Linked DNA regions of Homo sapiens. The protein of the gene in region 1 interacts with the protein of each later gene in a biochemical or structural test. Each region holds a gene or a part of one and is shown on either strand. Other genes may lie near its edges.

Region 1 (6,037 bases):
CACTTAAAATTTTTTTTTTTTTCTATTTAGTGTACTAAGCAGAAACCACCAGGCAGTGTAGTGCTGACTGAGTTTTTGAGTTTTCTGGGATATGATTTTTAGCTATTTTACTATGTAATATATAAACAAAAAATGCTAAGTACCCACTACTTTAATTCAGTAACTTTGCTTGTATTTGCGTGACATCTATATATCAGTTTCTCATGAAGAAAAACTATCATAAAAATTTTAAGGTAAAATTTAACACGAATATTAGGAAAAAACACACTTTCGCAATTTGGAGTAAGGTGAATGACACATCCTTTCCTTTTCTAGTAATTTCTAAATTTAGAAATTGAGAAATTTTCTAACAGTGTCAATCTCAACTACTTCTTACCTGAAAGGTTTCTTAAGATTTTGTATAAATTAATTTACTTCATGCTATACATTTAGGAGGCAAAAATTCAATGAAAATCATTTCATGACTTCAAGCACAGAATTTCAGGATGTCAAAATCATTTGATATCAAATAAATGCAATGGTTAAAACAACAATAAGAATCCACTGCCATCAAACAAACTTTCCCCGACCTGCCTCCCATTCCAGTACTGACAAAATCAGGACCACAAGGAGATAAATGACCGAAGTGTATATGCTTCAGTTAAATAAAAACATGGGAGACTGTAGCCCACATGTTAAAGAATACATTTAATTTTAACAGGGCAAATAAACTAGTTTTTAAAGGTAGTGGTGGTGTTGGCTTAATTTTGAGTGTTCCTTTTATTTCCACCTGAAAAAAAAAGTGAGCTTTTCCTCTAACTGCTTCCCAACAGTTCAATGACAGCAGAACATCAAATCTATGATGGTGCTGGAGATCTTCTATAGAGACAAGGAGAGATGCAACTTCGTGAGCATGTTTTAGTCTGCAGAAAGAAAGTGGAAAAGAGAAAGAGAGAGAGAGGAGAACAAAAACTAATTTTCCAGGCAGGGGAATACTTATAAAACCTTTTATGTCAAAGTTAGGATTTCACAACATAACACACTAATGCAAAATCCAGTAGCACCTGAAAGATTTAAGTAAATGCTGTCATCATTTAAATGCTTTTAAATATCTGTAAAAGACTGGAGGAAAAAAAGATAAAGTACATTCTCCAGAGAACAAATGTATTTCAAAATAAAAACTGTATTTTTGCTTTTCTTTTTTTTTTTCAATTTTTGTTTTTGTACAAGATTCAATAGTTATCACATATTAACTTATACACAATGGGATCAACCTCCTCCTCCATGTCGCTTCAAGTCCACATGTTCAGGCTATAGTCCCCAACATTATTTTCTGAGAAATATATTACCACAGTTTGATTTAAATATAGATACAGTATATAATACTTGTCTCTGGGAAAAATCAAATTTTAATATGCAAATGTTTATATAATACAGAAATGGAAAAAACTACAGTAGGCACACAACCTAATTATGACTTGTGGATGATGATTTCTACATACTCTCCTACTGTAAATGAATAGTTAAAAGTCTTAAGAAGATTTTATTTATATGTGCACTTGTGTCCACCTTATCCCATATACTGTACATGTCTATTGACAATCTGGGAATTTAAAGGTGCAGCCCTCAAGAGATTGTTAAATCACTAAAAAAGGAAACAATTAGGCTCTATTGGACAAGAAAAACACTCACAAAATTTCCAATTTTAAATTTCATTATCAGTAGGAAAGTATTAAAAATAATTTTCTGTATATACATATGGGTATATGTATATATTGAATCACACATATGTCCCACATTATCAATACAATTCAAATGGAGACATTTTGGTGAGTTTTTTCATTAAATGATCACTATGTCAAAATTTAAAAATATTTTATTACATCATTAAAATAATTCACTTGCCATTTCAACAGCTTACACTGTTTTTTAAATTTTTTTAACTCTTCATACTAAACTCCCTGATCCCTAGTGTTAAATCTCCTATTTAAATTAAAACTTGGTGCTCTTTGTTACTCAGAAACTGATGGATAAAAACACATTTACTTCAAAATTCCATCAATCAAATACATTTTGTTACCTGATTTATCAGAGAAATATCTCAGCTCTGAGCATGTGTATCTAAATTATTCTCCCTATAATATATAGGTGAGGAAAATATCCTAAAATAGATGGAGGTAACGTACATGATGTTACAGCACATATAATACATGATTGTTATAAATTTTTCAGAGACACCTGAAAACTCACTTAAGAAACTAACTTCAGAAACAAACCATTTATTTTTCACTCTAATGTAAATTAATATGTATGTATTTACGTACATACACATACATAAAAAACAAAATTGTCTAGTATTGAGTAGCTGTTTATGAGTGAAAAAATGGTTACAAATTGGTTAATTAGCTTAATTTTGTACTTAACAATTCGATCATTTTGGGGTACAAACAAGAAGTCAGTGCATTTATAGACTCCATAGAGTCAGTTACTCAAGCATACACTTTAAAAAAGAACCCTCCTCAACATCACAGGCATTGTACAGCAAGAATATATGTACTCTGATGCAATTCCTACTTTATAAGCAGACTAGACAGCACTTGGCTTACTTTTAAAATAGCTTCGTAAAAGAAATATATCATATAAAGAAATGCATGTTTGCTAAAAGTCTTTTAAAATTACATCAAAACAACATTAAAACCTGTTCACTGAGAAGAGCCTATTGAATTTAATTCCTGTTTTGAAATACCTAGTTAACAATTCAGAATATTGCCTTGTGAGGTTTGAATCAAGATGTGATTGATGTGTAGAGCCAGATAGAGTACATGACTCCATCTCTATCTGCCACGATCACAATTTAGATAGAGTCCTCTGATCAGCTGTTTGATGTAAATGGACCCCCTTTAAAATAGCTATACACCTTAAAATTATCTATAATAAACAGTTCCCCAATAACCATTATTATTCGTAAATTGAAATGCATTGATCATTCAGAAAAGATTTCTTGCAAAATATATAAATAAATGTAACTGCATATTCTGTAAATATACTTAACATTGCTAGACCAGCCTGTCAATGACGGGCTGCTGTATTTCAGTACTGTGTGTCAAATTTATTAGAAACTTAAAAAGAAAAATTTCTGAGGGACTCAGCTGCCTTCGTTAGTTGGCTTTAAAATGTGTAATAAAATGGGAGACAATATCTTCTCATAAATACATGGAATCAATATGGAAAAGTAAACTATACAACAGACAAGATTAGAGAACACCAGAGTGTACCAGAGTAGTCACCAGAGTGAAATATCTTCCAGCACAAAAAAGGGAAGAACTCTATACACCCAGTTATAGTATATTTCAATTAAAGATACAGCTCTCTCTCACTCCTGGCAAGAATTAATTGGTAATGGCACTGCTTCTCAGCAGTGCAAAAATATCCTGAGAAATTATTCAGATTACAACAAAAGACAGGCTTTCATCACTAAGTTTTTGCACAAAACACAGCTCTAGATATCGTAAATAAATTAATTTAAAAAGCAGATAATCTTCACTGTGTTGAACACAAAAAGGGGATGTGACCTAGACATTGTTAATTCTCCCATTGGCTAATATCAGGAAAAAAGATTGCATTAAGTGTCTATTTATAACTTTCTAGTTAACTATGGCCAATAATATACATGGAGGTAATTTGTAGTTCAAGTTTTTCATCTTTTTTCCCCAACTAGCTACAAGCTGGATTCTAAAATTTACAGTGAAATATACAATTCCAATTTCAAAAGATCCTCCTCCTGGAGGAGTGATATTCAATTTTTTTTTTTTTTTTTTTGTGCAATCTTGATGCAGAGCCTAAACAGTCCTATGAAGAGAGACAGTGTATCTTTTAATTAATTGGCACTGAAATTTCACTTTCCTTAGCTGCATTCTAGTAGCTTGGCCAAGTTATCTCGTAATTCTGTTAGTTCAAATATCTTTCCATCCAGAATTTCTAAGAGTGTCTTCAGGTTATTGCGAAAAGCTTCTTGTTCATTCTGACTTTTCTCCAGACGTTGCTCTAAGTCAGACAGTTGTCCCTCCAGGTCTTTGTTCCGAATTTCTACTTCCTTCAGAAACAAAAGTGTAACATGTATATATGTCAATTCATCACTTAGAAAACAATACAACTCTCTGTTATTACCAATATTGCGGTAATCAATGCAGTTTGACTGTCAGGATGAGCTGCAGAATCTTAATTTAGCACAATTTAAGGAGATTTTAGACTTGGCCATCCCAGAGAGCAATACGATTTTAATGACTGGCTTGGTTATCAATCTATCTAACCACTCAACGAAAATCTACTGACTCATTACTTTGTGCCAGGCAACACTCTAGGTACTTCAAATACCAAGACAGGCTTGAAGACCTATTTATGGATCACTTAGATCTCATTTTTATTGCTGTCCACCTATTTCTCCTAATGCATAATTATTAGCAATCACAGGTGAAAGCAGGCAGAGAAAGAAAAAGAAATTAACTTTTTCTGTTTACTGGCAACTCTAGAGAAAGATTTAGACAAGAAAGTAACTCTCTAAAATGTGATTTTAGGATCCTCTGAATATGTTATTCTTTGCTTTGCCTCAATATCAAATAAATGTATATGTAGAGAGTATCACTCAATTGCTAGAAACTGTAGTGAAGATACATAATAACTGTACATATTAGAGAATTATAAGTTAACAGTTCCAATACATTGCAAACCAAGGGAAAAAAATGACAAAAGGAAATCAAATGTTCATGACAACAAAAAAAACACTAAATGATTTGTTTTTGACAGAATAAACTCTGGCACACTTAAAAATTATTTAGCAGTTATTACTGCTTTTGTTTTTTTGTTGTTGTTTCTTTTCTTTGAGACACAGTCTCACTCTGTCCCCCAGGATGGAGTGCAATGGTGCAATCTTGGCTCACTGCAACCTCCGCCTCCCAGGTTCAAGCCATTCTCCTGCCTCAGCCTCCCAAGTAGCTGGGATTACAGGCACACGCCACCACACCTGGCTAATTTTTATATTTTTAGTAGAGACGGGGTTTCACCATGTTGGCCAGGCCAGTCTTGAACTCTTGACCTCCAGTGATCCACCCGCCTCGGCCTCCAAATGTGCTAGGATTACAGGCGTGAGCCACCCCGCCTGGCCTATTACTGCTTTTAAAATTGTCTCTAAATGTGACAAATATAATAAAGTGAGTCTAAAAAAATAAAATGACATAAATCAAGCTAATGATTTCATTTTGGTTAAAAAAATCAGATTGAGAAAAATGGGAGAAAGCCAACTATTACACTTTAAATAAGCAATTCAGATAAGCAATGAATTGAAAGTTGTTATATATCCGTTCTGGAAAGCTCACTTTTACATTTGAGAGAAACTAAGTGACTGACACAATTTACATTAAGATATATAAACTATATGGGACAACGAAAATATCTTGATGTTAGTTACACAACATGATAGCCTCAGAAAATGAGATGTTTCAAAATGTTAATACATCCTTTAAATGTTAATCTCTAAAGGAATTCTATCAAGTCTAAAGGACAGTGGAAATTTTAAAAAAATTAGATCACTGAAAGACAATCTGGTAAATGTTAAATGAAAAGAACAGAATATAAAGTAGCTCACTGAAACTGGCAAAAATTCGTATGCATGAGGACAAACACTAGGAATTAATGTAGAAATAGGAAATAAAAAATAGTTCTGGTGTTGAAATTACAGACACTTTTTTCCAAAAATTTATTCTTCTCTCAAGTTGGATAAAGAATGAAAAAAAAATTAAGAACTAAATTTTTTTCACAATGTAAAAATTAAACTTTCAAGAAAAATAATTAGGGCAAGGCTCACGCCTTTAATCCCAGAACTCTGGGAGGCTGAATCACCTGAGGTCAGGAGGTCGAGACCAGCCTGGCCAACATGGCGAATCCCTTCGTCTCTACTAAAAATATAAAAATTAGCCAGGCGTGGTGGCAGGCACCTGTAATCTCAGCTACTCGGGAGACTGAGGCAGGAGAATGACTTGAACCGGGAGGCAGAGGTTGTGGT
Region 2 (7,038 bases), on another chromosome or scaffold:
CAGAAGGGAAATTATAGTTAACAATAATTTTGTGTATTTCAAATTAGCTAGAAGAGAAAAATTGTAATGTTCCCAACACAAAGAAAAGATAAATGTTTGAGGTGATGAACATGCTAATTACCCTGATTCATCGTATACATTGTATACAGGTATCAAAATATGACATGTATGCAAAAAATATGTACAACTATTATATATCAATTTATAAAAACTCTGGGCCAGGTGCGGTGGCTCTCGCCTGTAATCCCAGCACTTTGGGAAGCTGAAGAGGGCAGATCACTTGAGCTCAGGGATTCCAGACCAGCCTGGCCAACACAGGGAAACACCATCTCTACTAAAAATAGAAAACTTAGCCGGGCATGGTGGCAGGCACCTGTAATCCCAACTACTCAGGAGGCTGAGGCAGGAAAATCACTTGAACCTGGGAGGCAGAGGTTGCAGTGAGCCGAGATCGTGCCACTGCGTTCCAGCCTGGGTGACAGAGTGAGACTGTCTCAAAACAAACAAACAAACAAAAAACAAAACAATTAAAAAAAACTCTGATAAAAGAATGCCATGCATGTTTTCTACAAAAAGTAAGCCAATGATTTCTTCATAAGAAGCCAGACCCATGACGTCATTCACTGTTGCTATACAGGTTGAGCATCCCTTACCTAAAATTCCAAAATCTGAACTGCTCCAATGAACATTTCCTTTAAGCATTATGTCAGCACTCAAAAAATCTCAGATTCTGGGCTGGGCGTGGTGGTTCACGCCTGTAATCCTAGCACTTTGGGAGGCCAAGGCGGGCAAATCACGAGGTCAGGAGATCGAGACCATCCTGGCTAACACAGTGAAACCCCGTCTCTACTAAAAATACAAAAAATTAGCTGGGCGTGGTGGCGGGTGCCTGCAGTCCCAGCTAATCGGGAGGCTGAGGCAGAAGAATGGTGTGAACCCGGGAGGCGGAGCTTGCAGTGAGCCAAGATCACGCCACTGCACTCCAGCCTGGGCAACGGAGCGAGACTCAGTCTCAAAAAAAAAAAAAAAAAATTCAGATTCTGGAGAATTTCGGATTTTGGATGCTGAACTGAAAACATTCCCAAATCTGAAAAAATCCAAAACATTTCTGGTCCTAAGCATTTCAGATAAAGGATACTCAAACCTGTATATCGATAAGCTGGGAATTCTCTTATCAGCTCCTAGATGGAAACTGAGGTATAGCTGAAGAAATGTTGGCAGAACGAGAAATCAAAATTCTGAGTCTCCTTTGCCAGAGAAATGCAAAAAGTTACCTGACAAGTGACCAACAAATGCTTTTGTTACAAATAGTTTTTAAAATTTAAAAAGGTTCTATTATAGGACTGACATAACTCCATGTAGAGGGGGCTGGAAAGGAATGCATCAAAAGGGCACATGCGTGCTAAGATGGTGGGCACTCTCCCCTTCCTCCAAATCCTGACGGTATTACTAAACTGTTTAGAGGGATCATAAAACAAAACAGAACCAGGGCCCACCCTTCTCACGGCACCAGCTCCAGCATAGTCCTTTATCCTGCCCCACTGAGGCAGGCCTGTAGGTGGCCCTGGCAACATCCTGACCTCCCATGCACTCACTGACCGAGAGTGAAGCAGCCTCTGGTCATGCCCTCAAAGGCAGGCAGAGAGCATTAGCTATGAGCACACTCCCAACTCCAGTTCTGATTCCCACTTGCTCGCACCCAGGAACCTGCGAGACCTCAAGCCTGTGAGGCCTGTTCCCAGTGAAGCGGGCCTCACCTGGCCTTACCTTCAGGAAGCTGGCCATGGTGCTGACGTGGCTGGCACAGGCTCCCTTCCGCACATCGTTCACGCCCTCGCCTGTCTGCAACACAAGGATGCCCAGGTTGACCCAGGCCTCCCCCAAAGCCACTTCCCTTCCCTGGGGACCCAACATCTACCCTGTGTCCCAGAAAAGAGAAAACTGCAACCCCCAAAGCAGAACCTATTCTTCTGACTGCATCACATGGGTGAGGTAAGTTCCCATGCCTCCAAGGGGCTCATGGATTCTCCCTGGGCAGGATGGCTACCGGCTTTCGCTGTGGGGGCATTTCATGAATTTTCTTTTTTTTTTTTTTTTTGGAGATGGAGTCTTGCTCTGTGGCCCAGGCTGGAGTACAGTGGCGCAATCTTGGCTCACTGCAACTTCTGCCTCCTGGGTTCAAGCAATTCTCTTGCCTCAGCCTCCTGAGTAGCTGGGACTACAGGTGCACGCTGCCATGCCCAGCTAATTTTTTGTATTTTAGTAGAGATGGGGTTTCACCATGTTGCCCAGGCTGGTCTCAAACTCCTGAGCTCAGGCAGTCCACCCACCTCGGCCTCCCAAAGTTCTAGGATGACAGGTGTGAGCCACCCCACCCAGCCTTCAAGAGTTTTCTTGATCCCCACCAAGGGATCAAGGAGGCCCTGTCCCTGTACTCCCAGGCTCCTAAACACTCCCTCAGGCTCTCTACTCCATCAGAACAACCACCCTCAAGAGCACGGAGCAAGGACTCCCTGTGACTGCTTTTAATCCATTTTGCAGGAAGAACTCTAGGCTTGGAAGGTGAATTCTGCATAGCAAAGCCACAGTTATTCTTTGGGCCACAATGAATCTGTCAACTATTCTGCTCATTCACCAGCTCAGAGCTGTTCTATTGATCTACTAAGTCATGCCAGTAAAACACTTTGTTCCTGAAGTCAAGTCAAAACAGGAAAGAAGACAATGGGGTTTCCTGGGTCACACCTAGATGAAACAGGCTCCACATACCCAGTTGATGAGGACAAATTTGGGCAGTCCAGAGTTGGGGTCCTTCACTCTGCAGAAGGCGTACATCACCTTCCCGCTGTTGAGCTCCTCCACCATCTCCTCCAGGCCACCCTCTGCAGCAGAGTCACAGTGAAGGTCAGGGGTGGCCCTGACATTCCCTGCTGGCCCTGGTCCCACCATGAAGGGAGGCCGAGCTGCTTCTAAACCAGGGCTTCTCACCTCTACCTGTATCAGAATCTTTCTAGGGGTATGTTTAAAATCAGAGTCCTGGGCACCACCCTCACTAAACTGATTGATGAGAGCTGGGTGGGACCTAGAAGTCTGCGATTCTGACAAGTACCTCAGGTAATTTTTTTTACCCACACTCGTTTAAAAACCACTTCTCTAAACCCAGAGGTAATTCTGGAAATAAAAACAGGGTCATTTCCACGGCAAACCAGCCACCAGACTTCCAAATGGAGGATGGCTACGTCAAAATTTTATTGTTGCCACAACGTTGCAAAAGGGCCCGGAATAGCAGGGCCTGTAGAGTCACCACTGCCTGCACCTGTGTCTGCTCAAGTTCCAGGGCCACCCAGACGGCCAGACCAGATTGAACATCCTGCAGTGGCGTAACTGGCTCAGTCCTCAGACTCCAGAAGAGAGGGTGATGGGGACAGGGGGAGCACAGGAGTGGGCAGCTCTAAACAATTCTCCCTGACACTGAGGCTTAGCCCTCACAAACTTTTCCAGGTTATAAGGAGGAAGAGCTGATCAGGTATTTCATCTACAGGGCTCCGTATGAGTGGAGGCAGTCATGAGCCCCACTCTGGGGACAGCAAATTGTTGCATTTGTGGCAGAGCCCTGTCCTGTGCCACTGGGGATGACAGGAAACTCTCAAGTTGTTGATCTCTGCAACTCCCAGTCACCTGCCACACCACATGTCTACTGTTCAATGGCAATCCTTCTAGAAAGGGGACACCTCCCAGAAAGATTGTGAAAGGAAGGGGCTTTCTACCAACAACAGACATCAAACCGTGGAGAACCACTCCGAGTGTTCATTGAACAATGAAGCCATGTCCAGCTCAGGACAGAGGGAGGGGTCAGGCAACTTCTGGAGGAGGAGCAGTCACGGGTGTCAGCTGAGGGGCCCACAGGTCACACTCTGACGAAGCCTACCCTGACAACCTCTGCTCTGTGCTGGCCAAGAGCCTGTCCTTCCTGTAGAGACCTCCAGAGCCTCCCCCGTGACTATCTGCAGTGATACTGCCTCTCCCAGTGAGGATGGGGCCCCTGCAAGCACTCGGCACAAGACCAGGGCAGGACAAAGGGAGAAGAAGATATGTCTGTGGACTTTCTTTCCACCAGCACCAGTTCTGGGACTGGTGAGCTTCCCACCGCAGCTCCCAACGCAGGCTGCCCACAAGCTGGAGAGGCCTGTTTCCCTCTCAGCTCTCCCCAAGTAGACAAAGAGAAAGCACTCCCCTGCACCCAGAGGGAAGGAGAACCAAGGAGGAATGTTTTCACTTACACATATCTGAAACCTAAGGCCTGCCAGAAGTGGCCAGTGAGCACTGGAAGCCCCATGTGGCTCAGTGGACCAAGACAGCTGAGTGCGCTGACCCCTCGTCGTCACCCTCCTACCTCCTGGTGTCCCTGAGTCCATTTGGAGTCATACTCACCCCCTGTGCCAGCCACGCGGATGTCATTGCTGTTGCCTTCATAGGTAAAGAGAGCCCTGAAACGAAACACAAGTGAGCTCTGTAGCCAGCACCTTGGGTTCCATCTCTCCTCACCGTATCCACCATGACTTTCCACTACATCCCAAAGAGCTTGGGCTGACAGTAACACTGTGGGTGGGCACAGGCCCGTTCTCACTTTGCTCTGACCCACTAGGCAGGTTCTCAGTAGGCAACTGTGCAGCCTTCTCAGCTCTGCAGCTGGGAGGACACTGGCCTGACTTACCATGGGGTGGGGGTTGTGAGGGACAAAGCCATGGAGATGGGAGCACACATCTACTATGAGGAAAACATGAGCTGTGGAGTTTCCCAATGACTGCTATACATTCATGTGTCAAATACTCACCTGGCCACTAGGTATATGGATTTGAAGAGACAAAACATATCTACATATTCCTGAACCCAGAGCACCCAAAAGGAGAAGCAAGTCGGAGAAATACACACACTGGGCCCCTTGGAAGGCTGCCCACCACTCCTGTGCACGTCTGCCCTGGCTCCAGTGAAGCCTGGTGGGTAGGGCAGCAGGTCCTTCCAGGCTTGAGACTCTTTGGTAAACACAGACTACCACAGGTTGTGTTTATCAGAAACCACAAAGGAATGACACGACATGAAATCACACAGTTAAAGCCATGAACCTGCCAAGCCCCTCACGGACAGGTACCCATGAGCAAGTTTTCTATCTAGCAGAGCCTTATCTCTCCATGGGTGACATGGGGCCATGGCTTTCTTTTCCTGAAAGATTAATTATTCATAAGAACTTTGGGCTGGGCGCAGTGGCTCACGCCTGTAATCCCAGCACTCTGGGAGGCCGAGGCGGGCAGATGTGGATCACGAGGTCAGGAGATCGAGACCATTCTGGCTAACACGGTGAAATCCCATCTCTACTAAAAATACAAAAAATCAGCTGGGCGTGGCAGCAGGCACCTGTAGTCCCAGCTACTCAGGAGGTTGAGGCAGGAGAATGGCATGAACCCGGGAGGCGGGGCTTGCAGTGAGCCAAGATCGCGCCACTGCACTCCAGCCTGGGCAACAGAGTGAGACTCCATCTCAAAAAAAAGAACAGAACTCTGGGCCAGGTGGGTGGCTCGTGTCTGTAATCCCAGGACTTTGGGAGGCTGAGGCAGGAGGGTCGCTTGAGCCCAGGAGTTTGAGACCAGCCTGGGCAACATGGTGGGACCCTGTCTCTACCAAAAATACAAAAATCAGCCAGGCGTGGTGGCATATGCCCGTAGTCCCAACTACTCGGGAGGCTGAGGTGGGAGGATTGCTTAAGCCTGGGAGGTCGAGGCTACAGTGAGCCATGATGATGCCATTGTACTCCAGCCCAAACAACAGAGTGAAACCCCAACTCTTAAAAACAAAAACAAAAACAAAACTCTGGTAAAGATTCATTCTGGCTTGCTAATAGCATGAACCTTGCAGCAACTGAACATCCCCAGCAGGGCTGCTGGACATGGGCTGGAGGCACTGACCCACTGGACTATAAGTCAAAGGCAAAACCCAGTCCAGTGTGTGTCATCTCCCCAGGCTCTAAAGCACAGGCCTGCTGAGGCAGGCCAGACAGAAGCTCCAGGGATAAACAGTCGGACAGGAACCAAATCAGCTTCAACTTGGCTTCCCCAGGGCTTTGCCAGTGCCACTGGGCAGAGATACTTATGCCTCAGAAAAATGGAAGAAATTAGACCCAGGCCCAGTGGATCTGGTTGGTAGGGAGGAGACAGGCCTCCGGGAAAAGGCACTCCTTACCAGGAGGGGAGACAGAATACAGGAGAGAAACACTGAATGAGAAACACTCAGAGAAAAGGAACTAGAGAAAAGAACACAGAAAAACAAGAGAAAGATTTGGGAGGTGGCACACTGCCAGCATGAGCTGGGGGGAACTCCCTGGAGGAAAGAAGCCCATTCCTCTTGATGGCCACAAAGCCCTGGCTCCCAGAAGATAGCAAGCTGGCACAAGCAGCAGGTAACAGAAGATGGCAGCTCAACCCAGCTCTTGCAAGAAGGGACTCAACCAGCTGCGATGGCTCATGCCGGTAATCCCAGCACTTTGGGAGGCCAAGGCGGGTGGATCACCTGAGGTTAGGAGTTTGAGACCAGCCTGGCCAACATGGGAAACCCCGTCTCTACTAAAAATACAAAATTAGCTGGGTGTGGTGGTGGGTGCCTGTAATCCCAGCTACTTGGGACGCTGAGGCAGGAAAATCACTTGAACCTGGGAGGCAGAGGTTGCAGTGAGCCAAGATCGTGCCACTTCACTCCAGCCTGGGCGACAGAGCAAGACTCTTGTCTCAAAAAAAAAAAAAAAAAAAAAAAGGGACTCAGCAGCTAATATAATAAGAGCCAAGCTCAATGCCTGCCACCTATCCCTCTGACTTGATCCCTCTCTACCCCAGGCCACCTTTAAGAATGTTCCCAGCGCAGAGGCTCATTCCCAGTTCAGAGGCCTTTTGAAAGAAGGGCGAAGGAAGTTTCAAATCAACATGAAAAAACATGGTGCACTGGCCTCTGAACAGCAAGGCATATGGAGTGTCAAGCATCTTATAATTCAATAGT

What was found. Proteins that work in one complex are often made in the same cells at the same time.
Region 2: the proteins of HOMER1 (region 1) and DBNL form a complex in vitro, tested with the Homo sapiens proteins (one study listed by BioGRID).

The regions. Positions count from the first base shown.
Region 1 is NC_000005.10:79,372,126-79,378,162, forward strand, and holds the end of HOMER1 (homer protein homolog 1), read right to left. Parts: intron 4,073-6,037; coding exon 3,884-4,072; 3' UTR 511-3,883; downstream 1-510. UniProt on the Homo sapiens protein: Postsynaptic density scaffolding protein. Binds and cross-links cytoplasmic regions of GRM1, GRM5, ITPR1, DNM3, RYR1, RYR2, SHANK1 and SHANK3.
Region 2 is NC_000007.14:44,047,671-44,054,708, reverse strand, and holds part of DBNL (drebrin-like protein), read right to left. Parts: intron 4,485-7,038; coding exon 4,429-4,484; intron 2,944-4,428; exon of another isoform or gene 2,880-2,943; coding exon 2,767-2,879; intron 1,843-2,766; coding exon 1,768-1,842; intron 1-1,767. UniProt on the Homo sapiens protein: Adapter protein that binds F-actin and DNM1, and thereby plays a role in receptor-mediated endocytosis.